Homo sapiens: one gene and its partners. The protein of the gene in region 2 purifies or fractionates together with the protein of the main gene of each other region. This does not show direct contact. Each region holds a gene or a part of one and is shown on either strand. Other genes may lie near its edges. The genes, in order: RETREG2, ZDHHC11, TMEM200A, FAM241A, PDGFRA, DGAT1 and EXOC2.

Region 1 (3,131 bases), on a different chromosome or scaffold from region 2:
TTATGTATTGCCAGCTTCCTGAATTGGTGGTCTTGAGCATCCTCTTAACCAAACTGGACCACCCCATTCCTTGAGTACATACCCATCCTTCTACCAGCTGAGCAGTAGTTTCTTACCCAGCCGAGCGGGGCGCATATCTCAGCGTGATGTTCTTAGACTTTTGCTCTTCTCTGCAGTTCTGCGTTCGAGTCTGCTCTGGCTGTGCTGTGTTGGCTGTGTTGGGACACTATGTTCCAGGGATTATGATTTCCTACATTGTCTGTGAGTAGGGTCTGTCCCTGCCCTATTTAAAGCCCTCTCCTTTCTTCTTTCCTTGGACTGACCCAGAGGGAAGACTATGCTCTCTCTGCTCAGTTTCTGATTTGTGGAGATCTCCAGGGATGCTTTAGTATTAGTAACTGTGGAAGACTTACCTGGGGAGGAGGGCAGTGGATGTGGCAAGAAGAGGTTGGCACAGCCTTGGGAAAGGACCTTGCCTACCTTCAGCACTTCAGTTTAGGGACCAGTTGAATGGGGGCTCTTAGGAAATTGGCGTAGGGAGCTCTTAGTTCACGTTCTTAACCCATAGTGTTGAGTATCCTGCTGTGGCCCCTGGTGGTTTATCATGAGCTGATCCAGAGGATGTACACTCGCCTGGAGCCCCTGCTCATGCAGCTGGACTACAGCATGAAGGCAGAAGCCAATGCCCTGCATCACAAACACGACAAGAGGAGTAAGGGGCTGCCCTAAGCCAGGAGGGTGAAAGAGCGGGAGGGCCTTGGCTTGGGGTTCATGAGATGCCCTGGAATTGAGATCTTCTCCAGTTCTTTAGCTGTGTTTGTCTCCCCTCCCATCATTCATGCTTGGTCATTGCTCTACTACTCTTGCTTTTCTAGAGCGTCAGGGGAAGAATGCACCCCCAGGAGGTGATGAGCCACTGGCAGAGACAGAGAGTGAAAGCGAGGCAGAGCTGGCTGGCTTCTCCCCAGTGGTGAGGTCCAGGGAAAGCGGGGGTGTCAAATAGAAAGCCAGAGGAAAAATCTTTCTGCTTTGGAGCTGCCACCTCCAAAGGAGGTGGAAGCCAGAGGTTTTGGGAGAGGGGATGCTCCTGATAAATTGGTTCTCTTATCCCCTCACATGTCGTGTTCATCCTGGTTCTCCTGCCAGGTGGATGTGAAGAAAACAGCATTGGCCTTGGCCATTACAGACTCAGAGCTGTCAGATGAGGAGGCTTCTATCTTGGAGAGTGGTGGCTTCTCCGTATCCCGGGCCACAACTCCGCAGCTGACTGATGTCTCCGAGGGTATGGGGAGCCCTTTGCTGCCCTGCTCCCCGCCACAATCTTTGTGTTCCCTACCATGGGTACTTACTGTGCTCTCTGGCCCACTCACTCTCTAATTCTCTCAGCTCCTAAAAGACCTTAACACCTAAGGCTTGGCCCAGCTTTCCATGTCTTGAGTTCTCATCCTTGAACTCATTGTCTGTTGTGGCTAATCAGACCAGCAGCAGGCCCATTCTTAATTCTTTGTTCTCTGCACAGATTTGGACCAGCAGAGCCTGCCAAGTGAACCAGAGGAGACCCTAAGCCGGGACCTAGGGGAGGGAGAGGAGGGAGAGCTGGCCCCTCCCGAAGACCTACTAGGCCGTCCTCAAGCTCTGTCAAGGCAAGCCCTGGACTCGGAGGAAGAGGAAGAGGATGTGGCAGCTAAGGAAACCTTGTTGCGGCTCTCATCCCCCCTCCACTTTGTGAACACGCACTTCAATGGGGCAGGGTCCCCCCCAGATGGAGTGAAATGCTCCCCTGGAGGACCAGTGGAGACACTGAGCCCCGAGACAGTGAGTGGTGGCCTCACTGCTCTGCCCGGCACCCTGTCACCTCCACTTTGCCTTGTTGGAAGTGACCCAGCCCCCTCCCCTTCCATTCTCCCACCTGTTCCCCAGGACTCACCCCAGCCCCTGCCTGCCCCTGAGGAAGAAGAGGCACTCACCACTGAGGACTTTGAGTTGCTGGATCAGGGGGAGCTGGAGCAGCTGAATGCAGAGCTGGGCTTGGAGCCAGAGACACCGCCAAAACCCCCTGATGCTCCACCCCTGGGGCCCGACATCCATTCTCTGGTACAGTCAGACCAAGAAGCTCAGGCCGTGGCAGAGCCATGAGCCAGCCGTTGAGGAAGGAGCTGCAGGCACAGTAGGGCTTCCTGGCTAGGAGTGTTGCTGTTTCCTCCTTTGCCTACCACTCTGGGGTGGGGCAGTGTGTGGGGAAGCTGGCTGTCGGATGGTAGCTATTCCACCCTCTGCCTGCCTGCCTGCCTGCTGTCCTGGGCATGGTGCAGTACCTGTGCCTAGGATTGGTTTTAAATTTGTAAATAATTTTCCATTTGGGTTAGTGGATGTGAACAGGGCTAGGGAAGTCCTTCCCACAGCCTGCGCTTGCCTCCCTGCCTCATCTCTATTCTCATTCCACTATGCCCCAAGCCCTGGTGGTCTGGCCCTTTCTTTTTCCTCCTATCCTCAGGGACCTGTGCTGCTCTGCCCTCATGTCCCACTTGGTTGTTTAGTTGAGGCACTTTATAATTTTTCTCTTGTCTTGTGTTCCTTTCTGCTTTATTTCCCTGCTGTGTCCTGTCCTTAGCAGCTCAACCCCATCCTTTGCCAGCTCCTCCTATCCCGTGGGCACTGGCCAAGCTTTAGGGAGGCTCCTGGTCTGGGAAGTAAAGAGTAAACCTGGGGCAGTGGGTCAGGCCAGTAGTTACACTCTTAGGTCACTGTAGTCTGTGTAACCTTCACTGCATCCTTGCCCCATTCAGCCCGGCCTTTCATGATGCAGGAGAGCAGGGATCCCGCAGTACATGGCGCCAGCACTGGAGTTGGTGAGCATGTGCTCTCTCTTGAGATTAGGAGCTTCCTTACTGCTCCTCTGGGTGATCCAAGTGTAGTGGGACCCCCTACTAGGGTCAGGAAGTGGACACTAACATCTGTGCAGGTGTTGACTTGAAAAATAAAGTGTTGATTGGCTAGAACTGCTGCCTCCCTGACTGTGAGCTGCCTTCCACACCCTGCACTGCACTGTGTTCTCTCCTCACCCTTAACCTGCTTCACTCCAGTCTGTTCTGGCTGTTTATTACCTTGTTGCAAAACAGGGCCGAAGCAAG
Region 2 (4,281 bases):
TGCATTACGCCTGATTTTTGGAAGTGTGGTTTTGAGTGTTGGCAGCCCAGTGTCACAGAGGACCATATCTTAGAAATGACCCCAGGCGAGAGCTGTGGCTTTCCTGTTCTATTTGAAGGCAGCTGTTTTAGGGTGCAGCGGGTCCAGGGACACAGAGTGGGCCATGAGCAAGGGATGGGTGCTGGGGCCTGGCAGAGCTGGCAGGCTCTGTGACCCCGGCACTTAGGAAGGGGTGGGCACCGTGACCCTGGCACTAAATAAGGAAGGGATGGGTGCTGTGACCCTGGCACTTAGTGAGGAAGGGGTGGGCACTGTGACCCCGGCACTTAGTGAGGAAGGGGTGGGCACTGTGACCCCGGCACTTAGTGAGGAAGGGGTGGGCACTGTGACCCTGGCACTTAGTGAGGAAGGGGTGGGCACTGTGACCCCGGCACTTAGTAAGGAAGGGGTGGGCACTGTGACCCTGGCACTTAGTAAGGAAGGGGTGGGTGCTGGGGCCCTGGCACTTAGGAAAGGATGGGTGCTGGGGCCCGGCAGAGCCGGCAGGCACTGTGACCCCAGCACTTAGGAAGGGGTGGGTGCTGTGACCCCGGCACTTAGGAAGGGGTGGGCACTGTGACCCTGGCACTAAATAAGGAAGGGATGGGTGCTGTGACCCTGGCACTTAGTGAGGAAGGGGTGGGCACTGTGACCCCGGCACTTAGTGAGGAAGGGGTGGGCACTGTGACCCCGGCACTTAGTGAGGAAGGGGGGTGGGCGCTGTGACCCCGGCACTTAGGAAGGGGTGGGCGCTGTGACCCTGGCTCTTAGTGAGCAAGGGGTGGGCGCTGTGACCCCAGCACTTAGGAAGGGGTGGGCACTGTGACCCCGGCACTTAGTGACAATGTTGGAGCCTCACCTCCCAGATCCATAAAGCAGGGATCATGAAAACCAACCGAAGGCAGCAGGGCCTACGGGGCACTCAGGTAAGGGAGGCGTCCACCTGGGCAGGGAGACATCCCTCGCACTGGCTGTCCCCACACCGCCCCATCCCCAGCACGCTCTGGTCTGTGACGTCCACCTGATGTGGCACCCGTCAGCAGGTGCTGGACACAGTGGCTCTCCCTTGTCTCCCCAGATGTCAAGAATATGAACACGTGGCTGCTGTTCCTCCCCCTGTTCCCGGTGCAGGTGCAGACCCTGATAGTCGTGATCATCGGGATGCTCGTGCTCCTGCTGGACTTTCTTGGCTTGGTGCACCTGGGCCAGCTGCTCATCTTCCACATCTACCTGAGTATGTCCCCCACCCTAAGCCCCCGATCCCCCCAAGGCTGGGTGGTCAGAGCTGCTCATCTTACACCTCTACTTGAGTATGTCCCTAACCCTGAGCCCCCCACGCCTGGGGCCAGAGTCTTTGTCCCCCGTGTGCGCATGTGTTCAGGGTCAGCCTCTCCCAGAAGTGAGATCATGGACAAAAAGGGCAAATCACAGGAAGAAATTAAATCCATGAGGACCCAGCAGGCCCAGCAAGAAGCTGAACTCACGCCGAGACCTGCAGGAGTGGTGCCAGGTGCTTGAAGTAACAAGTTTAAAATGTTCAGAGACAATGGAATGGAATCTATTAGGCAAGAACAGGACATTATGAAATAAGGACAGGTGGACTTCCAAAAACACAAGTAGAAATTCTAACAATGAAATATATTACAGGCAGGTCACCCACTAACCAAACAACTGAAGCGAGAGCTGGTGGTCTTGCTTGGTCTCACAGTGGGCACAGCGGTAGGCGGTCAGTCATGTTGCTGAACGACGGAGGGTAAACTCCCCAGCCCCAAGGAAACCTGTGTTGGAAGTAACAACAACCTCCCTGCTCCTGGCACCAGCCGTTTTGGTCATGGTGGGCCAGCTGCAAAGCGTCTTCCATTCTCTGGGCAGTGGTGGCCCCGAGGCTGTGGCCTCTCAGGGGGTTTCTGTGGACACGGGCAGCAGAGTGTGTCCAGGCCAGCCCCCAAGAATGCCCTGCTCCTGACAGCTTGGCCAACCCCTGGTCAGGGCAGAGGGAGTTGGGTGGGTCAGGCTCTGGGCTCACCTCCATCTCCAGAGCATCCCCTGCCTGCAGTTGTGGCAAGAACGCCCAGCTCAGAATGAACACACCCCACCAAGAGCCTCCTTGTTCATAACCACAGGTTACCCTACAAACCACTGTCCCCACACAACCCTGGGGATGTTTTAAAACACACACCTCTAACGCATATCTTACAGTCACTGTTGTCTTGCCTGAGGGTTGAATTTTTTTTAATGAAAGTGCAATGAAAATCACTGGATTAAATCCTACGGACACAGAGCTGAATGTGCTGTTTTCAGAGTTTTAATTTTGGATGTCAAGGCCAGTGCCTGTATAGAATAGGTGCTTAGGATATGTTTACTGAATGGAATGGAACTAAAGCCTCAGGTGTAACTTCATGGAGACACGCGTCTGCCTTGTAGAATGTTACAGGCTGCCTGTTCCTGAAGCTGAAACCCTTAAGAGTGAGAAGTCATTTGGGCCTCCTTCAAAACTCTCCACCCTTCTTAGAATCAGGAATATTTTTAAAAGTACTTTCTAGAATTATCTAGCAATCTCTCTTATATTTAAATATTTTTGGGTTTACCACCTATGAAGGCTTTTCTGGAGTTTCACTCCACCCAGAATTCATCATCTCTCCTTATCAGGAAATCTCTCACCCTCAGATGCTTAGAGTCAGGGTGAGTCCCCCCACAACAGGAGAATCGGCCGAGGTTGGGCCGAGGCCACATGGTCTCATCCACATGTGCCGCAGATTAAGGGATGCTCAAACTGCCCAGTAATACAAAGTCTGCACTTGTCATTTTTTTCCAACTTTGTGTACAAAATGTTTCCCTGGGTTAAAATAGTCAATGCCCACTGTGTGCTGAGCACGTGGGGTGCTGCAGGCCCTTGTGCTGCAGAGAAGCTGGCCCTTGCCTCAGGCGGCAGAGCAGGGAAGTGCAGTGGGCCTGAAGCCATGCGGGGCTGGGAGGGATGACCTGGTCTGTCCTCTGAGCCAGGCACTGCACTTGGAATGGGCTTCTTGAACGCAAAGCCCAGACCAAGTGTGGCAGAAACATGAAAGGACAGGCAGTCGGCTGCTGTGGGCGGGAGGCAGGACGCCCAGGCCTGTCCCCACCCCCGTGACCCAGAGCCTCCCTGGGCAGTGACTCCAGGATGTCCAGGAGCTTCTTCTCTACCTCACAGGACTGGAGAGGCTGTGGTGAGACGCATCCTGTGAAGGCTGGGCTGGCCACAGGCAGCTCCCCAGGGCGCCCACCGCCATCTGCTCCTCACTGCAAATAGGCCTCTGTGGGCGGCCGCCCCAGTCTCCAGAAATAGTCACAAGACATCGGCTCTCACGGTGTTGGTGTTTAGGGAAAGAAGCATGGAGAGTTTGGCCCCTCCATGGAAGCTCGTGGCTGAAATAGGTGCAGAGCCCATTTTATTAACGTTTGTTAAGACGGCTCTTTTAGATAAACGGGTGTATCAGGTTTTGCTTTGCTTCCCTGGGCTGCTTTGCTGCCTGCAGGACAGGCCAGGTGGGTAGGGCTCTGGCCAGCCTGCTGAGCTGTCCTGTGGGCACTGTGCAGGGCTGCAGGGATGGTGACCTGTCTCAGCCCCATCAGAGGCTGTGCTGAGTGGCACTCACAGCACTCGTGTTCACCTCCTGGGCCTGGGGCTCTCAGCACGCTCAGGAGTGTGTGGTCCCAGGACCCGCTAGCCAGCACCTCGGGGTGGCCGCCCCACTGCGTGGTCCTCCGACTGTGGGGTCTCTGTGCATCCCCCAAGGTGCGCCCCACCCAGTGTCCAGATGTGGGGAACCCCACAGGCCATCTGGACCCTCAGACAGAGCGGCCCCTCCTGAGCTGGTCTCTTACCCCTGCCAGCGATCCCAGGGGATCTGGAGCAACCTCTCAAGCTGCATGGTATAGGGGACCCAGGTCTGTGAGAGACAGCTCATCTCTGACACCACTAACAATGCAGCTCAATGAGGCCGTGGCAGGCGGCAGGGGCGTGGGTCAGCACTGTTCCCCAGGTCGCAGCTGCAGACCCCTCCTGCTGACCATCAGCTAGCTGCAGAACTGGGCCCACAAGGCACCTGCACTCATCCTGACCTCACAGGGCCTGCATGGTGGGCGGAGCAGTTCTCCCTGTGCAGGGGCCGGATCAGTGGCACTGGCCACTCTGCTGAGCTGTCCTGTGGGCGCCGTGCAAAGCCGCAGGGCTGGTATCTTGTCCTGTTCCTCCTTTTCCCT
Region 3 (4,888 bases), on a different chromosome or scaffold from region 2:
TTTCCTCTCAGGAGCTTTACAGACAATGTGGCTTCAGGGTGTTTCTTTATAAAATGTAGAGGTAACTAGGAAGAGGGCCCAATGGAAGCACACTCCTTTGATATGGTGCTTGACAAACACATTTAAGAAAACCTAAGAGAATTGAGCAGGTGGCTGTGGGCTAGAATACTAGATGCAGGTGGGGTAAAAATAAAACCACAGATGGTTTATAAAGGTGACTCATCCTTCCCCCACCGTAACTCCTTTAGTTTTCTTTTCTTTCTTTTTATAAAACATTTTGATTGTGACATCTCCACTAAAAGTGCCCAATCTCTAAATTCTTCTAGTCAAGGCAAGAAGGTTATACCACAGGAAATCCATTTCTACAGTCTCTTCTCATTGCCATATCTGATTTTAAAGACTTTTTTTTCTAATGTGGAAATTTTTGCATGGCTCTCCCCCACCCCCCAAACACGGATTTTATACCCCCCCAGAAGCAAACTTTTCTTGAAAACGAGATAAACAGATCACACGCCGAAATAAACAAATACACTGCACCAGAATATCATACTTGCCTTCTATCACTTAAAACAGATCCAGGGGACACAAGCATAGCACACACCTTGTGCATGCGGCTGGCCTGCACAGGGGGTGGTTGGAATATCCGGTAATTAGTTTTACATGAAACTTTACTTACGGAATTGGCCTGCATATATACAGTCATCACCGTCTTTGCCGAATTAGAGACGACATATTTTACTCTGTGAACAGGCCAGTCTCCACTCACTGGATGTTTGGGGTCAAGGAGGAGTAACCTGAACCTCTCGTTGGCTTTGATGTTTGGAGTCGAACATCCGCACTGCTCATCGAAGACCCCCGTGCTTCAGTTCCCTCTGTCTTCCATTTCCCCCGCCCATGGTTCTCGCCCCCCCAAGCCGTTCTCCGGAACCCCTTGCCGGGCCGGCGGGAAGCGTGGACGGAGCGGGCCTTGGCCGCGTCTTTTCCGGCCAGGTTTGGTTTAGCTCGCGCAGCGCCCGCGCAGCCCGCCAGGGGGACCCCGGCCCGCCGGGCGGCATCTGAGGAGAAAGCGTCCGAGGGGCGTGGAGCCAGGGTCCTGCGGTGCCTGCTCCGGGAATACTGCGAGTCGGCTGGAGCTCCCCAGCCGCTCCGGAGAACTGGGGGAGCCGGGTCCCTGGCTCGGTAACCGGTGGTCCCGCGGTAGCTAGAGGCGGGCCCCACGGGTGGGTGTGTCCGTTTCCGCACGCCAGCCTTCCAGCCCGGGAAGAGCGCCTGCAAGCGGGTACTTTGTTCCCAAAGATGGGTTTTGTCTGCGGGTGATTTGGGCTCTCGAAGTGCAACTTTGTGGCCGGGACGCGGATCGGCCGGCCTGGGCTCCTGCAGAGCAGATCCTGTCTGCGTCCTCCAGGAGGAGTGGGTGGCAGGACTGGGGTTTCCCACAGGTTTTGGGGCGGCGGCGAGATTGGCACGGTCCGGGGTCGCAGGCGCGCAGCCACGCCCCTGGAAGTCCGCCCCGGCCCCCGCCCCCAACCCGCCTCTTCGGGGCTTTATGGCGTGAGGTTTGGGGCTGGGATCCATCTGGAGCCGAGCAGAAAACTTTTCCCCTCCCGTTCCCGGTCCCTTTTGTCTTTCTTGGACGCGGTGGCGGCGCCGCCTGAGCGGCGACTCCCTCTCCCCTGCCCGGCTTGCTGCGCCCGGTGCCCTCCGAGGGCAGGCGCGCCTGGACTCTGCGCCCGGATGGCGGCGGCCCTCTGTGAGCACCGGCAGCGGCGCATCCCCTGCCCCGAGGCCTCCGGTGCCCCCCCGGCGCGGGCATAGGGGCGCCCCCACCCTCCGTCCGCTTGCACCCCTTGCCACCCGCCCCCTCGCCTGACTCATCCGCCCGCGGTGGCCGCCCGAGCCCTGGGATGGGGAGGGAGACCGCGGCTGCCCGCGGCGGCCGAGATTCCCGCTGACGCCCCCGACCCTGCCGCCTTCTTCGTCCGCCTCCAGAGGCGCCCGACGTCCCGACAGCTCCTGGAGTGAGACCAGGACTGAGAACAGGGAGAGGCGACCCGACCCCCAGGGCCCGGTGCTCAGGACAGGTGAGGGGAAGGAAAGGGTGCTGACGGGAGTGGGGAGGTGGGTGGGCGGCCACCGCAGCCGAAACCGGGCACTTCTTCAGCCCTCTGCCCTCCCCTCCCCTCCGCTACAGCCTCCAGAGTTAGGTAAACGCTGTCTCTCCTAAAGTTTGGGAAATAAACCAAGTCCGCCATCAGGTCCAGACTCCCCAGTCCCGGGAGCGCGAGAGAAGCCGTGCGGGGCAGCCTCCAAGAACCCGGAGTACTGGAGCGCCTGGCTGGGTTTCTCCAAGCAACACCCTCCTTTGTCTCGGTTCCTGAGAGTCAGCATTCTCTGTAATGTCCACAGCGTTAATTCATGATTGAGCAAAGTATGGTCAGGGTTTCGTAAAGCAGTATCTGGATGGGGTAGAATCTACACAGGCAAAATGGAGAGGCAAAGCAATTATTTGCAAAATTCAGCACTACTCTTCTCCCTGTAGTCTTGTCTGTAAGAGAAAGGACTGAGGGCTTCTAAGATTTGCTTCATTAATCATTCTTTTGCTATAAATTGTTCCAGCCAACACTTCACATTGTGTAGGCGCAAGCTCTCTGTGTGTATTTACCGCTGTTTGATTTAGAAAAATGTGTGTGTGTTTGTGTGTTTTTTTTAAATAACAATTCATTGTTCAGTACCGGGCATTGGTAATGTCGGAGAGAAAGGCAGATGCAGCACATACAGGTAATTGACTAATTGGAATCAGCCTTAGTCCGGTCCACCTTAGTCTGGTGTATTTAAAAACTAAATATGTTGGACTAAAGTGTCTCTTGCCTTGTCTCTTCTGAATACCTTCAGAAGTAGTTATGGACAACTGCATAGAAAACATTTCAAGAATCGATGATTATTCTTGTTTATAAGAAAGAATATTGAACTCTCGGTTTTGCAATCAAACCAAGTTTGAGGCACACTTTCTATAGTGCTGTATGCATAAATATTACCAGAGCTTGTGAAAGCTATTTACTTTGTCGTTTCTTGAATTATGGAACACTTATAAAAAGACCTTCAATTTGTTATTTGGCTACTGATACTAGAAAGCATTATCATTTTGTGAAAAGTAGACTAAATTTTGAAACTTTTTAAACCTTACTTTATTTTCCCACTGTTTACCTACACAGAAGTATGTAGTTGTAGTTTCATTCTTTATAAACACCTCAAGTGAAGAATAGAAGTCCTTCTAAACAGAAAATAATGCTTCCATTAAGTGGAAACTATAGTTAAATGCTTTGACAATTTAACAGTATGATTTTTTTACTGTAAAAAACACACACTGAGGTGTTTAGAATGATTTTTTAACCAAGTCCTACTAGATAGCTCATAATTATGAGATAATGTAACTATAATTTGTAACCCTGGTTATAATTAGCTTTGTATCTGGGCTGGGAAAGCCTTCATTAGAGTTGTATGGAAAGTCCCTGTAGGTAAATTCCAGGCAGTTAGCACAGAAAGGCTTCACCTGTTGCCTTTGAGGCAGGTCTAGGTAAATGCTGTAGTGTCTGAAGACACCCGTAATCAGAAGGGATTCTTCAGGAAAGATCATTGTAAAGAGGGATGGCTGTACTTGTTATTTTAACTTAGTGGAATTTTTAGTGAAGCTTTTGAATACTACAGGAGTTAGATTGTTATATTTGGACTTGTGTAGCTTCAGAATTTTGACAATAGCTCATTGGCCAGAAAAGGATAACTACTGACATATAGAGGGAACGGATCTGAACTGATTGGTTAAATGCTGTACTTCTCATGATGACTCTTAGCATAAAGGAAAGAAATTCATATTTAGCTTAGGAAGATAGATAAGAACAAAGATAAAAGCAAATGTCAACTTTTACATTTCTTAAGCAAAATTAGTAGAGGATAAAAAATAAGCCCTTGTAGTCATACACGTTACTTATCAAATAGAGGGTAGAATTTAAAAGAGGAAAAATAACTTGTGCAGCAACAGAAATCCAAACCTGCAATGAGATGGACCTCATTTTATTAAGGAATGTATATCTGATTTACAGTTTTATCAAGCAGATCCACTTGTTCCTGGACTTACGCTATGTTTTGTCTGCTGAGATCTGATATGTGCTCAAACACTCAGAAAACATCAGTGAGTGCTTATTGTGGTGTCATGCTAGCTACCCTTCCAGGCCTTTTCTATGGGCTTATAGGCTGATGGAGAGGGGACTGATAAATGTACCACAGATCACCTGGCAGCTGAGGTGGTCTGAGAGCAGCAGGGGACCAGTGCAGACTGGGAAGCAGCATAGTGGGTTGCAGAGGGACCTGGATGGGGAGTTGTCATCTTGACTGAGTCACTAATTAGGTGGCTGTGGGTAAGTGGCTAAGTTCCTCCACCTTTCTGCTCCTTGGTGCCCTTATCTGCAGAATGAGGGCTTTGGACTGACGATCTTTATGGTCTCTCTTTAAAATGCTGCAAGGCAAATTCTGGCAGAATTAAAGAGAGACAGAAGTCAGTGTGTGTGTGTAGGAGGGTGGTTTGTAGGGTTTTGGTTGAAGGAAGCCAGGCTGGAGGGTCTTGCTAGTTGTATTGAATGGGAAATGGCAAAGAGAAGTAAAAGATGTCTGGCCTGGGACATCTGACCTAACATTGATTATGTGAATTGAAAATACATAATAAAATAATAAAAATACCAGCTTTCACTTAGTACTGGGTGGTTTTCCATGAATTTTCACAAATGATGCAATAGATTTTTGTAACAACCCTCGGAAGTAATTAGAGCAGAAAGGTGATGAAGCTGGGACTAATACTGCAAAGCACATCTGCACCAGTATGCGCCACTGCCTTTCT
Region 4 (4,281 bases), on a different chromosome or scaffold from region 2:
CCCTCACAGAGTTTGCCCTTTCCTAATAATTTGATGGAGGTTTCTTTCTTGGGCTATTTCTCAAGCTAAATCCTCGTCCACATACATCCCTTCCTTCACTGATTTTTCTTTCCACTTCTGTCTGAAAGGTTCATTCCTTTTCCTCAACCTGGAAAGCTCTTTCATCAGCTTGTTATTACAATACCAGAACAAAATGTATCTTTATTTTGTTACTTATTTCATATATATATGAAATATATAAAACACCTAGTATTAACATAGGTGTTTTATTACTAGTTAAGATATTGTCTGCATCATTTTTAACAATTTGTCTTTAGATGCTACTCCATTTGAGCAAAAAATGAAGGTTCTTCTGTCATTCTGGCCTGAGTCTTTCCAGGTAGGGCGATTGACAAAGGATGCCTGGTTAAAATCAAGTCACTTAAGAAAGGAGGCCTTGGGAGAATGAATCAAGTCCTGTAGATGAAGAAACTGTGCCAGGTTTGAAATAGGATCAGGTGTCTAAAGAGAGATAAGCAAGGGAAAGAAGCAATTTCAGGGAATGTCCAAGAAACTGAAGGGACAGGACACAGCTATTCCATATATGTGTTGGTAATTGTGTGTATGAGAGATGATCCAAGTATGTTCATGAGGGTGAATGCCAGGTGGCTTTATGTAAGAGTTTCTGTGCCCTGATGCATAGCTGAAAGGCTAAACATCTCTAGTCCATTATTATATGCCTTAAATGTCAATAGCATCTGCTTAGATGTGGCACAATGTACAGGTCACTCACAATCTGAAATAACCTAACATGACCCTCTTACCTAGAGAATAGGGAAGTCCCATTATCCTTAGATTGACTTTCGAATTATTAACTCTAGCTTTAACGTCTTTATGATTATAAAAGTAATGTGTGCTTTGGAAAATTAGAACTATAGAAAGATCTAAAGAAGAAAAAAGCCTTTGAAATCCCACTCTATTTTGGGATTTTGATATCAAATATTTTGATATCAAATATGAAACTTGGTATTACTACAGTATATTCATTTGTCTATGTGTATATGCATATATACACACTTTTTTTTTGAGATAGGGTTTTGCTATGTTGCCCAGGCTAATCTCAAACTACTAGCCTCAAGCAATCCTCCCGTCTCAGCCTCCCGAAGTACTGGGATTACAGGTCTGAGCCTCTGTGCCCAGCCACACATGTATTTTTAATATGTTTTAATATAAATATAATTTTGTGTCTTCTTTTACAAAAGGTTGTGTCATTTTCCCATGTTATGGAAATTCTATGTGAAAACTCTCTTTAGGGCTGCCAAATAATTCATTCCCCTAACACCGCACATTGAAGTTGCTTCAAGCTTTCTTTTATAAATCGTGCTGTCTGAAAATATTTGCTTGTAAATCCTTAAACTTCTACCCTGGTATAGATTCCTAGAAGTAGAAGAACTAGGTCAATGAGTCAAACTCTTTGAAGCCTCTTGAAACATCCTAAAGAATTTAATTCAAGAAAGGTTGTACTCATTTACACTTGCAGCACTGGTGTGTAAAAAGGCCAGTTGGAAACCATCCATGCCAGCAATGAACAATATAGTTTATAATCATTGCCAATTTCATAGGTGAAACTTCTATCATATTGTAAGCTGTTGCTGGAGAGGTTTACTAAACCATTCATATATTTATTAGGCATTTGTATTTCTTTTTAGTCATTTTTTTTCTTTTGGCATTATAAGGATATTAATCCCTTATTTTCACATTGGCTGTAAATATTTTCTCTGCTTGCTATTTACTTTATAATTTTATTTATGTTTTTTAAAATTTGATAATGCTTTGAATTTTTATTAAAGGAATTTTTTTGGTAATTTCGTATATACACACACCACTCACATGTATACACGTATCTCTTTCTATACATATTAAGAAATTTTTTCTAATCTTACAATCAGTTAAATATTTGCCTATGTTTTCTTTTGTATGTGTGCATTTATGGTTTAATTTTTTACTCTATATATTTAATCTCTTTAGAATGATTTTCTATATTGTATGAAGTATGGAGCTGATCTTTTTTTGTCCTAATCATTGAATAATGTACTTTCTGCCTTGCTTTATAATCTTTTATAGTATTAAGGATTATATTAAAGTCTGTATTAAGTTTTTATATTTTTGTTGGTATTATGAAAAGGATTTTTTCCATATCATATTTTGTTGGTGGTTTCTAGCTATTGGCTTTTATGTATTTCATTTTTAACTGGCCATCTTTCTAAATTTTTATACTGGTACTAATAAATACTAGTAGCTCTTAGACTTGATTCATTTGCATCTTCTAGGTATATAATTATCCAGTTTATAGATAAAAATAATTTTGCTTCCTTTCAAATGATAATGTCTCATTTCTATTTCTTGCCTTTGGCAATGCCTAGAACTTTCAGAACAATGCTGGCTCATAGATAAATGTAAGTAAATAAATGAAGGAACTTCTGTAACAGCATTTGCCAAAGTGTGTTCCATGAGATGATCTGTAAAAAAGAAAACAAAATGGGGGGTTCAGTGAGGGGGGTCCATGCCTTTTGATCTATCAGTAGAAATATGATTAACAGTACAGATTCTAGATCAGGGTTACCTGGGTTTGCCTTTTATTGACTGTAACTTTAGGCAAGTAACTAACCTCTCTGGGCTGCAGTTTCTGCATCTGCATAATGGGAATAATTGTAACAACTTCATAGGATTATTGGAAGGATTATATGAATTAATAATATATGAGATGTACTTAGAGCAGTCTCTGGCACATAGCTATCTAGCATGTGAGTGTTAGCTGTTAGGCCTAATTTTGGACCAAAGTCCTAACTGAAACGAAATCTGAGAAAGGCAATTTTAAGTTTTCCAGCCTCTGCAATTAGAAAACCACCTGAGGCGAAAAGCAGAACAGCATTAATATAGTTTGGGCGTTTGTTGCCTCCAAATCTCATACTGAAATGTGATCTACAGTGTTGGAGGTGGGATCTGGTGGGAGGTGTTTTGATCATGGGGGTAGATCCCTCATAAACGGCTTAGTGCTATGCCTTTGGTGACAAGTAAATTGTCGCCCACTTAGTTCACACAAGATCTGGTTGTTTAAAAGAATCTGGGACCTCTCTCCCTCTCTCTCCTTCCCTCCCTCCCTCTTGCCATGTGACACTGCCTGCTCTCCCTTCACCTTCTGCCATGATTGTAAGCTTCCTAAGGCCCTTACCAGAAGGAGATGCCAGCACTATGTTTCGTGTACAGCCTGCAGAACCATGAGCCAAATAAACCTCTCTTCTTTATAAATTATCCAGTGCTATATTGTCTGTGTCTGATTTTTTTATAGCAATGGAAACTGACACAAGTATTCCTCAACTTCAGTGTGCATAGGAATCATCTCTTATTAAATGCAGATTTTGATTCAGTTGGTTTGGAGTGAGGTCTGAGATTTTGCATCTCTACAAACTCCTAAGTGATGCTGATGCTGTGCCCATGGACCACATTTTGGCAAGGGAATGGAGAATAAGCAAGTCAATATACTGTATTCACCACACTTGCCCTTCAACATAGTATCAGTAATATATACATATGAAGTTGTTTAACTATTTTCTTAGAAGTGTATATTTAAACTCTTGGTAAAATATGAGAAGCCAATAGTTGTTCCCTAGGCCACGTTATTTGCTGTAGGTCCTACAGCTAACTCATGCTAGAGCAGACTAGAACCCAGGTTTCCGAACACCAAAGCTAGTGTTTTTTGTTTGTTTGTTTGTTTCACAAATACAAAAAGCACATTACATGATGGAAAAACAGTCTGACAAATTTTCTGCCCTACTTTAGATGGTGTAGTTCAAAACTAAATATTAGTTTATACTCACTTCCTTTCACGTATTTTAAAAGCAGTTTGCAAGCAATATTGTAATAAGTGCTATGAGCTTAGTTGAATTCTGCCCTAACTTAATCTCATCTTGTTCCTAAGGACATCCAGTCACTAGAGTAACTCAGGGAATAATTTTGCATTTGATAGGCATCTTTTGTTCATTTTTTTAAATCATCCAGACTGGAACTTCTAAATCAGTGGTTCTCAACTGGGGGCCTTTTGTCCATAGGGGGCATTTGACAATGTCTGGACATTTTTTTATTGCTGAAACTAAGGAGGTGGTACTGACATCTAATAGGAAAAGGCCAGGAATGCTGGTAAACATCGTATAATGCCATAGTCCCCTACAGCGAAGTATTATCTGGCACAAAATTTCAATAGTGCCAAAGTTGAGAAACAATATTCAAAATATGTAAGGGTTA
Region 5 (4,281 bases), on a different chromosome or scaffold from region 2:
AGTGACAATTCTAGGAAAAGAGCTAAAAGCCGGATCGGTGACCGAAAGGTGTGGGTCTCAGGGTTCCCCGGGTCTAACTCGCCGGGTCCAACCGCAGCATCAGCCTTGGGGCGGCAGATAATCTTTCGGTCTCGCCTGGGGCGCAAGATGCAGGATCGGGGGCAAATGGCTTCTCCCAACTTCCCCCTAATTCGGGTTCTGCCAGATGGTTGTCGTTTGCTGAAGTGGCTCGGCGGCATTTCCTTTTGTTTTAAACTGATCAATGAGCGAACCTGGGATGGGCTGAAAAAGTAGATTGTAGGAGGGAATAATGGGAAACCCGACTTGGGGCGCCTCCTTCCCTGCCTCCTACTGCAGTTTCTCGGCCCCCGCGAAAGGGGAGCGACAAGCGCGGGTGGGCGCGGACTCTTGAGGGGGCAGAGGCGGCTATGGCGCGTGTCGGGCAAGGTGGCACCAGAAGGCACTTTTGTGTGTGTGTGTGACAAGAGTCTCGCTCTGTCGCCCAGGCTGAAGTGCAGTGGTGCGATCTCGGCTCACTGCAACCTCTGCCTCCCAGGTTCAAGCGATTCTCCTGCCTCAGCCTCCCGAGTAACTGGGATTACAGGTGCCCGCCACCACGCCAGGCTAATTTTTGTATTTTTAGTAGAGACGGGGTTTCACCATATTGGCCATGCTGGTCTCGAACTCCTGACCTCAGGTGATCCGCCCACCTCGGCCTCCCAAAGTGCTGGGATTTACAGGCGTAAGCCACCGCGCCCGGCCAGGAACGGTTCTTAAATGCCGAGAGGGCGCATGCTAGCTCTCCTCAGCATTCCCGGTGAGCCGCTACCCACGGCCGTGCGGCTCTCGTGCCCATAGGAGGCGCTGGCGAGCTCCTGTAACCCTAAACCCCTCGGCCCCTTTCCCCCCACCCGCCCGGATTCTCTTCCCGCTCTCCCCCCTCTCTCCACACCCGCCCGGCCCCCTCTCGGGTCTCAGTTGAAAACAATGCAAACGCAGAGCGTCGTGCCTGGGGCGCAGCGGCCTCTGCAGCTCTGAGGTTCAGAGCGCGGCGCGCAGGGGCGCAGGGGCGCAGGTCCCCGGAGCGGCTGGGCATCGCCGCCAACCCCGGGACAACCAAGCCGCCGAGGACTTGGTGGAGGTGGGAGGGAGAGCGGACCGCGCAGTGTTCCTCTGGGTCCCGGGGTCAGAAGCCGGACAGTGGCGGGGGCTGGACAGTCCGAGCGCAGAGCCTCCCGGGCGAAGTCTGCGCGCAGCACTCCCGGCTGCGCTGTCGGGGACCAGGAGCCTGGGCTGCGGGCGAGCTAGCTGGCGAGCCGGGTAAGATTCGCGGGGCTGTCGCGCCCTCTAGTGGGCTCCGGGGACGCATCCCGCTTTCCCCAGCCCCGGGCGGTCGGCGCCGCTATCTCAGTGGAGCGCAGCGCTGGAACCCCGGGGGCCCGGAGCGGAGGCTAATCTGGGTCACCTTTCCCCTCCTCCGGGCAGCCAGTGGACTCCTCGCAGGCTCTGTGTGGGCCCGGGAGGCGCCGGGTGGACGAGAGGGGGCCGAGGTCTCTGGGTTTGGATTGAGAATGGGACGTCCTTGTAATTCAATGTGGGAGAAGCAGGGGAGTGTGGAGGAGGACGGGTCCCGTGCGTTCTTGGGGGGCAGGCGCCGTCTTCTGCGTTCCAGCCCCTCGCCAGCTCCCTTGCCCCGCGGGCGGCCTGTTGCTGTTTGTTTGTTTTACGACCCTGCGTTATTGTGCAACGGTAACAGTCGTTTCCAATCAGCTGCGCGGCCGTCGCGGCCCTCGCCAGGCTGGTTTATGGGGGCGGCGGTGGCGCGCGGACAGATAGGACAGCGCGGCCCGGGAACGGCGTCGAGGTCCAGGCGGTCCCCCTGCCCCGAGGGGGCGGAAATGCTGAGGTGGCGAGAGCGTGGGTTGCACAGAACCCTAGTAGCGAGTCCGGCTGAGCCTCTGCGGCCTAGCCCAGCAGCGTCGTCTTCCCGGCTCCGAAGACGTCTTCCCGAAGCCCCGCTGCCCCGGCGCACCAGCTCCCGGTGATGGGGATGATGATGGGGATGATGGGGAGATGTCCCCGAATTCTCCTGGGGTCCCGAGGAGATTTAGCCATTTTCAACAGCAGTTTTCCTATTTCTGCTTAAACCCCGCGGGCTTTCAACTGAGGTCACCACGAAAGCTAAAAGTACAACCTAAGGAAGGAAGAGACTGGAAATTAACATTTGGGGTAGTGGAGCTCAGAATTCCTCGCAGCGGCGTCTGTGTCGCAACCCGTGGACGCACGTCCTTGGACCAACACTGCCATCTGCTGGCCACTCGTAAGAACTACTGCGACCCGCTGTGAGAATGGGCTTCGCGGAGACCATTAGGAAGGTGCTTTATTTTTTATTTTTTATTTATTTTTTGCTCAGTAGGACCGTAATAGGTGACTGATTTTCTTTTGCTGTGAGGCTACAAGAATTGCTGGAAGACAACATTTTTATTTCGTGGAAATTTGTGTTGTGTTTCTCCTTGGTTGTTAATGCTTTGCATTTACATAGTGAACATCTTATTATCAGAGCTGGCCTGTGAGGAGGGTAGTGGGGGGGCATTGATGTTCCCGTTTCTGAGTGAGGAGACCTATGTCGGGGCCTTGGTGACCTCAAGCCGAATGCTCAAACTGCTACTGCTACTCCTAAGGTTGTGCCATTAGGAGTCACACCCGTTTGGTGATATTCAAAAGGATATGTCATTTTATTCTCCCGTGGTTAAATATATGGTGAGAGGAGAGCAGGCATGTTTATGAGCCCAGATTGTCCCATAAAAGGCTCCTGTTTAAAAACACTCCAGCCCCCTCCCATTACTGGAATGTCTGATGGAGCTCCGGGAGATCAAAACAACAAAACAGGCTCTGGTAGGGTGCAGAGGTCCTGGTAAACACACCCTCTGCTGGAAAACAGGGAGAAGTTTCCACCAGTGTAGACCTGCACTTGGTTTGCCTGGGCTGAAGTTAGGAGACTGCGTAGAAAAAGGAAAATGTGTAATTTTCACAGTTAGAATTAACTTAGGAGAGCTGAAATTAACTGAGCCTCGGAAATCTGAATCTTGAAGTCACCAGTGGCTTTTGGGGCTGTGAGAGAGTCTCCTGTGGTCTTTAATCATGTGAGGGTGGGGTGAAATTCAATATTCAGTGGTTCTGCAATGGGATGCACTGTGCAATTGGTGATTGAGAAGCCAACTCTCTGGCTTTAGGAGAAGAATGTCTTGCTGTTAGTCCTTCTGGAAATAGAGCCTTGCATTGCCTACTGTCTGTTTACACTACCTTTGCACATTGCCTTTGGTTATAGAGTCATGTCCAATGGCTCTTTACTTCTGTTTGCAGGGCAGGAGATGGCACCCTGTTAAAGAGAAAGGATAGTAGCTGCAAAGTCATTTGTTTCTCTGTTTCTGTGACTGTATATATTGGCTCATCTTTGAATGGTCTTTATAGCCACACCAGGCTGGAGGTAACAGGGTCATGGGAGTGGACTGCTGGTGTGGGCTGAATCAGAGTTCAGATCCATGTCTCCAGGAGGTAGGAGGTGCAGGGCAAGTCATGTGGCTTCTGGGGCATCCCTCACTTTCTTAGTTAAGGAGAAGTTGAAGGAGCCGATCTAAAATATCTTGGGAGTCTGCAGAAAAAGTCGTGAAAATCAAAGCACTTTCAATTAAACTATATAATTTAGTCCTTACAAGAATGCCACAGGGCAAGCAACCAGTCAGGCCTTGGTAGTCGTGCTTCCTAGAAGAAAAGACTGAGGTTCAGAGAGTTGGATAGAGTATCAGATTTGGGATCAGTGGCTAGTCCAATGTGATTTCCATCCTTTCTTCTGAGAGAAAGCATAAGAAGGCCAAGAGGATGGTGGAAAAGCACAAGTCACCTGCCTGAGAGTCAACAGGGCGGGGGGTCTCTTTCTCAGTTTGTTCCTCTAAGTTATGGCAAATGTTTTTTGAGCTGTGATTATTGAGAATGGGGGCTGAAGTTCAACATGTAGTTGGCATGAGGGAAGTAATTATGATTGAAGAAAAGATTTGGGTGAAATCTAGTGTTCTTCCCTGCAAAGGGGGTTGTTCTCACGGATTCTTATGGTGCCATGTTTCTCAGAATTTGTAGTTTCAGTTACTTATATTTGCACACCTGACTTTAGATGAGCTCCAGAATAGCAGTTACTAATTAAGGATGAGCATTTAGAGTAGATAAAAGTGGCAGGAACAGCAAGACTCACTCCCAGAGAGCCTCACTACAGGTCTAATAGGTGAG
Region 6 (5,076 bases), on a different chromosome or scaffold from region 2:
GCCTGCCTGATACCTGGTTGGCAGCAACCCACAGCGGCCTGTGGTGACAAGAATATGTCACCAGGGGGGCAACCAAGGGGGCAGCCCTGCTGGCCACTGTTGGTGGAGGTGGTGGAAGAGGACGGAGCTCAGAGGCGAGGCTGTGACCAGCCCACGGGAGAGGACCCCACCTCAGGAGGAGCACCTGTTTGCTTCCAGAGAAGTGCTGCTTGCCCCTGCTCACCCCAGAGGAATGAAGGTGTTTCTAGAGTCAGAGTCCTCAGTGAACCCTGGCATCCTGAGATCCAGGATGTTCTCACTCCATGCCCTGTGCAATATGCACACCAAGCCAAGGTGGGCCGCAACTGTGGCTGTTACAGTTGATTAGTTGCTTCATTTAACATACAAGATGTCTGGGGCAGTGGCTCATACCTGTAATCCCAGCACCTTCAGAGGCCGAGGTGGGAGGATTGCGTGAGGCCAGGAGTTCGAGACCAGCCTGGGCAGAATAGCGAGACCCCCATCTTTAGAAAAAATAACAACAGGCCAGGCGCGGTGGCTTGCGCCTATAATCCCAGCACTTTGGGAGGCCGAGGTGGGCGGATCACGAGGTCAGGAGATCGAGACCAGCCTGGCCAATATGGTGAAAGCCCGTCTCTACTAAAAACAGAAAAATTAGCTGGGCGTGGTGGCACGCGCCTGTAGTCCTGGCTACTCGGGAGGCTGAGGCAGGAGAATCGCTTGAACCCAGGAGGTGGAGGTTGCAGTGAGACGAGATCGCGCTACTGCACTCCAGCCTGGCGACAGAGTGAGACTGTCTCAAAAAAAGAAAAAAGAAAACAAAAAACAACAGGGCGGTTGCACAGGCCGTGCAAATGCACAGAAGCCTCTTGAGTCCCGGCGATCCAGCGGCCCAGACTTCTGACATCCTGGAGAGGCTGGCCCACGTTGGAAACTGGGAGGCCCTGAGAGTTGAGGGACGTGGAGCTCCTTGTGGAGAGAGTGGGTGGGCTGAGAAGACACCACCAAGGGGCCTGCGCCCTCGCCCTCGCCCTCGCCCTCCTCTCGCCGGGCTCTGCAGGCGGGGAGGTGGAGAGCCTGGGAGTCGCGTGCAAGGCAGGCGTCCCGGTGACGCAGGGCCTGGTGCATTTCTCCAGCTTGGTCTTCTGACCTGGCCCTTGTCTGACGTCCCCCTAAGGCGAAGAAAAGCAGGTTCCTGCCGGGGTAACCAGAGGGCTCGCGGAGCAGAAGCGCGCCAGGGACGTTACTGTAAGCTGCGTGCGCAGAAACCAACGCGCTGGGTGGCGGGCGACGCGAGCCGCCGCGGACACCGGCCCGGACAGCTGGACCGTGGCGCACTAGGCGCTTCCTAAATGATTGCCCGGAGTGACTCGCCGAGACCCCGTGTGTACACAAGTGGGACGAGGGGCGGGCGCACAGCGGCCAGGAAGTCGGGGCCCAGCGCACCCCTCAGCGGACCATCCCGCTCCGTGGGGCCGGACAGGACCCCGGGACCACGCGGGAGCGATGCAAGGTCCGTTCCCGCTGCGCGCACTTGCGGCCCGCAGCCCCGGCCCTGGGAGCTGCCACGGCTCCCAGGGTGCTCTGCGCCGGTGCGGCCGCGGCGACTACGACTCCCAGGGTGCTCTGCGCCGGCGCGCCCGCGGCGACTACGACTCCCAGGGTGCCCTGCGCCCCGTCAGCCTCTCCAGGCCCCGCCTCAGGTCGGCCGCGGACTACAAATGGACGAGAGAGGCGGCCGTCCATTAGTTAGCGGCTCCGGAGCAACGCAGCCGTTGTCCTTGAGGCCGACGGGCCCGACGCGGGCGGGTTGAACGCGCTGGTGAGGCGGTCACCCGGGCTACGGCGGCCGGCAGGGGGCAGTGGCGGCCGTTGTCTAGGGCCCGGAGGTGGGGCCGCGCGCCTCGGGCGCTACGAACCCGGCGGGCCCACGCTTGGCTGCGGCCGGGTGCGGGCTGAGGCCATGGGCGACCGCGGCAGCTCCCGGCGCCGGAGGACAGGGTCGCGGCCCTCGAGCCACGGCGGCGGCGGGCCTGCGGCGGCGGAAGAGGAGGTGCGGGACGCCGCTGCGGGCCCCGACGTGGGAGCCGCGGGGGACGCGCCAGCCCCGGCCCCCAACAAGGACGGAGACGCCGGCGTGGGCAGCGGCCACTGGGAGCTGAGGTAGCGGAGCGCCTGACCCCCTAACCTCTGACCCAAGGGCCCCGCGACTTTCCGGGGTTGGCCGAAGCGCGAGCTCCGAGTCCGAGAACATGGGCCCTGGGCTAAGCGGGGATCGGTGTGCCCTATGGGCCCTGTGGGGAAACTGAGGCTTGGGGAGAGTCACCTGACAAGGTCACTGGGTAGGGGCTCTGGAGCTGGCCTTGGCCAGGCAGAGGGGAGCCGGCAGGTGTCCCGCATCCAGATCCTCTTGGGTCTGTGCATCCTCAGGGGCTCCTGAGGAGCTTTTCGAGGGGCGGGCTGGTGGGGGCCCGGCCCTGGACAGTGTCCCCTTATATGGAAGGAGTCAGATAAGATCTGGGCAGTTTGTGGTGATAGGTTCCTTCTTGGTGCTATGAGCGGTGCCTTGCGGGTAGGAAAGGCTCCCAGAGGAGGGCTGGCCTGCCAGGGAGGGGGCCAGAGGAGCCCAGGCCTGTCCGAGGACAGGGGAATCAGCAGCTGCCCCGGACAAGGGGCAGTGTTAGAGGCGTTCTTGTCCTTGCAGACCCTTCTGAGAGTGGCTGCGTGGCCCATTCATTGCTCCAGTGGTTAGGCTGGCCTGGAGCCCTGCCGATGTTGCCAGAGCCAGCGTCTGTTGTAGGGACAGAGAGTTGGGTTCTGTGTTGGGACTTCCATCCTCCAGGTGGGGAGTGGGGTATGGGGGTGGTGGACACACCTGCAGGCGTGTGCCCTGCTCAGCTGGATGACTGACAGAGAGGGGTGGAGGGAGAGAACCATGGCCGATGGGAAGGACTTGGCCAGCCTGGGCATTGGCTTCCTCCACCAAGCTGGCCTTGAGCAATCCCCTTGCCACCCTCCATCCCCCCTTTATGGCCTTTACCCTGGCCCAGGGGCCCTCAGGGCTTTGTTTTAGAGAGCAGCTGAGGGCCTAGAGGTTATCAAGGCAGAAGTGGGCTGATTTTGGACATGTAGTTGGCAATGATTTGCTCTCTCAGTGAGCAAGAACAGAGCTTTCCTTCACGGGGCACCATGGGGAGGGGGTTGGGGGAGGGCAGGCACTGTCGTGGCCCTCAGGGTGCTCAGTTCATCTGGGAGATAAGATAACCTCAGCGAGAGTCAGGCATGGAGCAACATGGACAAAGGTCGGGCACGGAGGCCTTGAAGGGGCCGTGGGGAGGAGGGTGGCCCTCCTGAGAGGGGTGCTTGCCTGCTGTGGGCCTGGGGTGCTGGTGAGGGAGGCTGGCCTAGGCACCTCCTACCTGAAAAGGAGGTGTGGCTCCTGGAGTTACCCTCTCTCCAGGAGGCAGGGGGATGGCTACATGACCTGTGGAGGACGTGGGAATTGAGATTTCTTTTTTTTTCTTTTCTTTTTTTTTGAGACTAGTTTTGCTCTTGTTGCCCAGGCTGGAGTAAAATGGCACATTCTTGGCTCACTGCAACCTCTGCCTCCCAGGTTCAAGTGATTCTCCTGCCTCAGCCTCCAGAGTAGCTGGGATTAGAGGCGCCCACCACACCCGGCTAATTTTGTATTTTTAGTAGAGATGGGGTTTCTCCATGTTGGTCAGGCTGGTCTCGAACTCCTGAACTCAGGTGATCCACCTGCCTTGGCCTCCCAAAGTGCTGGGATTACAGGTGTGAGCCACCGCGCCCGGCCGGGAATTGAGATTTTTTTTAGTGTGAGATGAGGGTAGTCCCAGCTTTGGGCCAAGCCGCCACCTGGGGGTAGGCAGGGGAGAGCAGTCACCTTCTTGCTTTGCAAACCAGCAAGGCTTTCCTGTACTTCTGCTGGTGTGGGATGGGTGCAGAGCTCGTGGGAGAGGCCTGGTGAGTCCCTGTCCCTGCCGTGGAGGTCGGGTCTCCTTGGGAAGAGGGGCAGTAGATGGAGAGGTGAGGCCTTCATGGGGCTGGAGGCTGAGACCAAAAGTCTATCTGCTCCTGGGTCTCCAGGACTTGCAGGCTATGTGTGCTTGTCCCTCAGACCTAGGGATGCAGCAGGGCTCGGCCACTGGCTGTGGACACTGGGCTCTTCTCCCTGCTGTCTGCGTCAGGCCTTGCTCTGCCTGCCCTCCTGGGACTTGGCCTCTAGCGCACCCCCTTGTCAGCCTCACAGCCTCCCCTCCCTCCAGCTTCCTGCTGCTCTTGGCCCAGCCCAGCCTTTCCTCTCCCGCTTCCTCATTACTCCTTGAGCTCGGGCCTCCTCCCCTCACGGACACTTCCTGCTCACCTAGGGCTGGGCTCTGGGTGTGAGCTCCTTTCTTCCGGCCCCGTGGCAAGGTGAGGCTGTGAGGCAGGCAGGAGAGGGCACCCCTTTCTGCTCTGCTTGTGGCTCACTCCTGCCAGGCTCTTTGCACACACCCACCAGCCCTCTGCTCACAGGCACCCCAGTCGGGGCCATCCGGTTTCTGGCTTCTCCCAGGGTGTTTTGTCCCTGAGGTGTCCTTTCTGACTCTCCCTTTCTCTCTCCAGCAGGGTCTGCGAGGTGCAGGGAGCCTGCCCCAACCATCTTGAACCCAGGCCCAGCCCAGAGGCCAGAGTGGAGGAGGCGGCAGTGAGCAGAGCTGGACTCTGCCCCCTCCTCATTGTGCTTGGCCCTGGAGCTGCACTGTGTGGGCCCCAAGTGTGGGACTCACTGGGACCTGTGCCTTTGGGCACACTTTGAACCTGGAGACAGGGTGGCGGGTGGGCATGTGCCAAGGTCTCAGTGTTGCCGTGAGACTGAGAGGATCCTGCTGGCTGGGTGGGCCTGGGGGCTGCAGGAGGGAGGGCAGGCTGCTCCGAGTCTTCTTGGACTAGGGAGTGGGTGTAGGGACAGCTGGAAGGTGCAGAGGCTTGGGCAGATCCTCCAGTCAGTGAGAGGGTGATAAAGGTGCTCTAGGCACAGGGGCAGATCCCACCTCCCCATGCCGTTCCATGCAG
Region 7 (4,281 bases), on a different chromosome or scaffold from region 2:
CTTTCATTACAGTGATTCATATGGTTTGGGGTCTTTTAGGTGAAAAAAAAAAAAACTTAGGAAATGTGCAGCTCATGTATACTTTTATAAGATTAGCTGATTTAAGAAATATTCATGATGCTGCCTTCACATTTGTCATTTGTAAATTACTTATATAATTTTCTTTGCCTGCTACGTAGAGGTAATTCTGCCAAGGAATAGAATTTGTTTTAAATATTTCTATTGAGCAACTTTCCTGAAAATGATTTCCTTGTTTTGTTTATTGTCCCATATGTAGATATTGAGTCCGCAGAATTTAGCTAATGTACACGTGTATGCACATACATGCGTATGTGTGTGTTTTACCCTATTGTATGAAGTTCTGAAATAACCTAAGGGCCCATAATTGCTATACAGTTTAGAAGTGTAATGAAAATAAATGTAGGTTCACATTAGAGAATTTATTTGGGCATGGTAAATATGGTGCTTTTTATATTGGATACCATTCTTAACATATGAAAAGACTTAGGCAAAATGGAAATTTTATTTTAGCAAACCATAAAAGATCCCCTAAACTGAAAAACAGTCTGAGTTTTAACGTAAAACTACAATAGCAGTATTAACATTTTGTTTCTAGTGCCCAGTTACACATTTTCTGATTAAAATCAGCTTTCATCTAAGTTTCCTTTCCTCTTTTTAAAACAGGAGCAAGTAATACTGCAGACACATTGTTTCAAGAAGTATTAGGTCGGAAAGACAAGGCAGATTCCACTAGAAATGCACTCAATGTGCTTCAGCGATTTAAGTTTCTTTTCAACCTTCCTCTAAATATTGAAAGGAATATTCAAAAGGTAGAGTACATGTTTATTTATTTACATATGGTTGTAGATGTCATACATTTTTAAGATTTTTTAAGATGTTTTTTATATTAACCAAATGTCTTCATTTTGCATTACTGACAGTTTTCAAAATGTTTCTTTATTTTAAAGGGTGATTATGATGTGGTTATTAATGATTATGAAAAGGCCAAGTCACTTTTTGGGAAAACGGAGGTGCAAGTTTTCAAGAAATGTAAGATTCATGTATTACTTTTAGATCTTCTCCTTTCCTTTTATAGGAAGAATGTGGAATGTGTTCTGCAAAGAATGTTATATGAGTTTTTAGTTTTTGTTTATATGAGGCTCTCTTTACAATGTAAAGCAATTACTTCAGAAATAACAGTATGACTTTTCTTATTTGATACGCAGTGAAAATGAGCAACCACGACTCTAGGTTGTTCGCCTGAGACGTTCTCTGCCGTTTGTTAACCATCACGCTGTTAGAAAGTCTTAGTTTACTGGAAGGAATCAATGACAAGTATTTTCTAGAGATGGAAACCTACATTTTAATCTTCCCGTCTTCAGAGAGACCCATAGACTGAAGAATTCCAACCTCCTTTAAAGGAAGCTCAGCAACTTTTGAAGTTATGTCTAATGCCAGAGTTACAGTCCACCAGGAGAAATATCACAGGGCCTTATTAAATTTAAAAATGAAATCTGTAAGGACCCAGAAAACTAAATTTATTTTTTTATTGTGGTAAAATATACATGCAGTGAAATGTACAGACCTCACATGTTAGAGGTCAGTGAGTTTTGACAAATATGTACACCCTTGTAACCTACATCGGAGATAGTGTTCTGATCACTCTAGACACGGCCCTGGTGCCTCTTAGCCCTCACCCCACAAAAGCAACTACTATTCTGCTTTTTGAAATTTGATATTAAATTTTCATTCTGTAAATCTTGTGTATTCTTTTCTTTTTAAATAGATTATGCTGAAGTAGAAACAAGGATTGAAGCTTTAAGAGAATTACTTCTGGATAAATTGCTTGAGACACCATCAACTTTACATGACCAAAAACGTTACATAAGGTAAATCTTCTGCAAACATTTTGTTGAATCACATGTATCTGTTTGGTACTGTATGCATCTTGTAACCCTTAAGGCTAACTTGAGGGACTTTAGGAGATTGATGAAATGGTGAAGGGGAAGACAAATAGCAGAAATTTAGGGTTATCTGGCGTAGGACATCAAAATTCTTTTGAATACTAATAGATTTGGGAGTAGTTATGGAGTTACTCACTTTTTGAGAAAACTCTGCCATTTTCGGGAAAGGAAAAGTAGTCTCAACCTCTTCCTCCTGCTGAGCAAAGGGGTACCTTGCCTAGTGGGATGGTGTGGGTACCCATAATCTGTGAAGGAGGGGCTCCCTGCATGGCTTAAAGCAGAATACTGTCACACACTGGGTGGGAAATGCATTATGCCACAAGAATGTGCTGCTGCTTAACAGCACAGTAAGTTCTGGAAGGTTTTAACCTTGAATAGCTTTCTGATTTCCAAGCCTTTAGTGGTCAGTGAAAGAGAAATAAAGTCACTAAGTGAGCATACTTTTTAAAAAATTGCAGTAATATTGGGCCGGGCACCGTGGCTCATGCCTGTAATCCCAGCACAGCACTTTGGGAGGCTGAGGCGGGCGGATCACTAGGTCAGGAGTTTGAGACCAGCCTGACCAATGTGGTGAAACCCCATCTCTACTAAAAATACAAAAATCAGCCTGGCATGGTGATGTGCGCCTGTAATCCCAGCTACTCAGGAGGCTGAGGCAGGAGAATCGCTTGAACCCGGGAGGCAGAGGTTGCAGTGAACCGAGATCTCACACCACTGCACTCCAGCCTGGGCAACAGAGTGAGACTCTGTCTTAAAAAAAAAAATTTGCAGTGATATTAAGAGAGGTGAATTTCACAGGATATGAAGAGAAGGCCTTAGAGAGAAACAGTATCACATAATGGGAACTAGCTGTTAACTTTGGGCAACCGACTTGAGTTCTATTTTTCGGTTTCTTCATCTGAAATGGACATGGTAATCAAATCTGCATCTCAGGATAGTTGCAAAGATAATCAGAAATACATTTAAGGGTTTAATACCTCACCCGGCACATAAAAAGTAGTCAGTAAATTTTATGTACATGTAGTTTATGTCAGGGTTTGGAGATAAAGCATATAAATTTTAAGTTTTTTATATCTGTGATTAAAAATATTAACTTCATTTTCTGCTAGGATTTTTTGAGTATGGCCTTTGTTCTCAGAATAAATTATTTTCCAAATTTAATGGTTTTTCCACTTGAATTAGTGAAGTTTATTGACTATTCAGTGGTTGTAAAATGACAGACTATGTATTTATGAATTTAGCTGTGGTCCCCATGTGACCTTTGAAAATAATGTCTCAGGAACAGACACAGTGGCCCAGACCTGTGATCCCAGCACTTTGGGAGGCCAAGGCAGAAGGATTGTTTGAGTCTAAGAGTTCAAGACTAGCCTGGGCAATATAGCAAAACCTGGTCTCTGCAAAAAATCAAAAATTAGCCAGATGCGGGGATGCATGCCTGTAGACCCAGCCACTCAGGAGCCTGAGGCAGTAGGATCTCTTGAGCCCAGGAGTTCGAGACTGCACTGAGATGTGATCGTACCACTGCACTCGAGCCTGGGTGACAGCAAGATCCTGTCTCTGAAAAGAAAAGACTGTCTTGAAAAGAGCGTCTGGCCTGAAAGCTGCTGTGTGTGCAAGTGTGAACGGGGGAAAAGATCCGCACCTGGACCTGTGTCCTAGTGATGAGGCGTACGGCGGGAGTATGAGCCGTCGTCATTGGCAGCACACTAGTATTGCCCAGGAGGAAGCAAGCAGAGGCAGTGGCGGTGGGATGAAGAGAGGGTGCTGTGTTTGCATGCTGCCACCCCTGCACGTGTGCAGCATGCTCAGGCGCTGTGCGGGATGTGTTCTACATGTCCTCTCTAATCCTGATCACCACCATGAAAGGACGCTTGTGCGGTGCCCATTGTACAGGTGAAAACACGGAAGCTTGCCCAGCACACACAGTGACCCGGGGGACGGGACGCCTGTTTGGCTTCAGAGCCCACTCTTGTTTCTCTCTAAGCTGCCTCCATAAGAAAGAATGTATATAGGGGATTTTCCTGGTTTGTAGAATCCTAGAAATGTAAAGCTGGAAATAAACCACACATTTGTCATCCAACTGCTTTATTTTCTACCTAGAAAGCGACAGAGTTGCAGGGAGGTTGAGCGTAGTGTCCAGGACACGCAGCTGGGTAGCCTCAGACGTCCTGAGGCTGCTGTTTCCTGCCCTGCTCCTTCACTGCGTGTGCTTTGTATATTTCTGGCCTGTTTACACTTGTTATGTTAAACTTGCCTATAGTAGTGTGTTAAATCTTGTTGAGTGTACAAATTCTTTATGTTGTGGGTTACCATCTAT

Evidence for each region.
Region 1: the proteins of ZDHHC11 (region 2) and RETREG2 purify together in Homo sapiens (affinity purification with mass spectrometry; 2 studies listed by BioGRID and IntAct, with this or other methods). This does not show direct contact.
Region 3: the proteins of ZDHHC11 (region 2) and TMEM200A purify together in Homo sapiens (co-immunoprecipitation; one large-scale study listed by IntAct). This does not show direct contact.
Region 4: the proteins of ZDHHC11 (region 2) and FAM241A purify together in Homo sapiens (affinity purification with mass spectrometry; 2 studies listed by BioGRID and IntAct, with this or other methods). This does not show direct contact.
Region 5: the proteins of ZDHHC11 (region 2) and PDGFRA purify together in Homo sapiens (co-immunoprecipitation; one large-scale study listed by IntAct). This does not show direct contact.
Region 6: the proteins of ZDHHC11 (region 2) and DGAT1 purify together in Homo sapiens (co-immunoprecipitation; one large-scale study listed by IntAct). This does not show direct contact.
Region 7: the proteins of ZDHHC11 (region 2) and EXOC2 purify together in Homo sapiens (co-immunoprecipitation; one large-scale study listed by IntAct). This does not show direct contact.

The regions. Positions count from the first base shown.
Region 1 is NC_000002.12:219,180,494-219,183,624, forward strand, and holds part of RETREG2 (reticulophagy regulator 2), read left to right. Parts: intron 1-176; coding exon 177-261; intron 262-568; coding exon 569-712; intron 713-875; coding exon 876-970; intron 971-1,146; coding exon 1,147-1,282; intron 1,283-1,519; coding exon 1,520-2,136; 3' UTR 2,137-3,131. UniProt on the Homo sapiens protein: Endoplasmic reticulum (ER)-anchored autophagy regulator which exists in an inactive state under basal conditions but is activated following cellular stress.
Region 2 is NC_000005.10:837,487-841,767, reverse strand, and holds part of ZDHHC11 (palmitoyltransferase ZDHHC11), read left to right. Parts: exon of another isoform or gene 1-75; coding exon of another isoform or gene 76-85; exon of another isoform or gene 86-923; coding exon of another isoform or gene 924-965; intron 966-1,117; coding exon 1,118-1,273; coding exon of another isoform or gene 1,274-1,349; exon of another isoform or gene 1,350-1,420; coding exon of another isoform or gene 1,421-1,549; exon of another isoform or gene 1,550-1,686; coding exon of another isoform or gene 1,687-1,796; exon of another isoform or gene 1,797-2,326; intron 2,327-3,229; coding exon of another isoform or gene 3,230-3,263; exon of another isoform or gene 3,264-4,281. UniProt on the Homo sapiens protein: Endoplasmic reticulum-localized palmitoyltransferase that could catalyze the addition of palmitate onto various protein substrates and be involved in a variety of cellular processes.
Region 3 is NC_000006.12:130,364,444-130,369,331, forward strand, and holds the start of TMEM200A (transmembrane protein 200A), read left to right. Parts: upstream 1-1,573; 5' UTR 1,574-2,081; intron 2,082-4,888.
Region 4 is NC_000004.12:112,148,125-112,152,405, forward strand, and holds part of FAM241A (uncharacterized protein FAM241A), read left to right. Parts: intron 1-4,281.
Region 5 is NC_000004.12:54,232,124-54,236,404, forward strand, and holds part of PDGFRA (platelet-derived growth factor receptor alpha isoform 1 precursor), read left to right. Parts: exon of another isoform or gene 1-48; intron 49-976; exon of another isoform or gene 977-1,320; intron 1,321-1,836; exon of another isoform or gene 1,837-2,348; coding exon of another isoform or gene 2,349-2,375; intron 2,376-4,281. UniProt on the Homo sapiens protein: Tyrosine-protein kinase that acts as a cell-surface receptor for PDGFA, PDGFB and PDGFC and plays an essential role in the regulation of embryonic development, cell proliferation, survival and chemotaxis.
Region 6 is NC_000008.11:144,323,524-144,328,599, reverse strand, and holds the start of DGAT1 (diacylglycerol O-acyltransferase 1), read left to right. Parts: upstream 1-1,747; 5' UTR 1,748-1,963; coding exon 1,964-2,163; intron 2,164-3,218; exon of another isoform or gene 3,219-3,282; coding exon of another isoform or gene 3,283-3,302; intron 3,303-3,347; exon of another isoform or gene 3,348-3,955; coding exon of another isoform or gene 3,956-3,984; intron 3,985-4,371; exon of another isoform or gene 4,372-4,593; intron 4,594-4,626; exon of another isoform or gene 4,627-4,639; intron 4,640-5,076. UniProt on the Homo sapiens protein: Catalyzes the terminal and only committed step in triacylglycerol synthesis by using diacylglycerol and fatty acyl CoA as substrates. Highly expressed in epithelial cells of the small intestine and its activity is essential for the absorption of dietary fats.
Region 7 is NC_000006.12:595,629-599,909, reverse strand, and holds part of EXOC2 (exocyst complex component 2), read left to right. Parts: intron 1-684; coding exon 685-830; intron 831-968; coding exon 969-1,050; intron 1,051-1,786; coding exon 1,787-1,889; intron 1,890-4,281. UniProt on the Homo sapiens protein: Component of the exocyst complex involved in the docking of exocytic vesicles with fusion sites on the plasma membrane.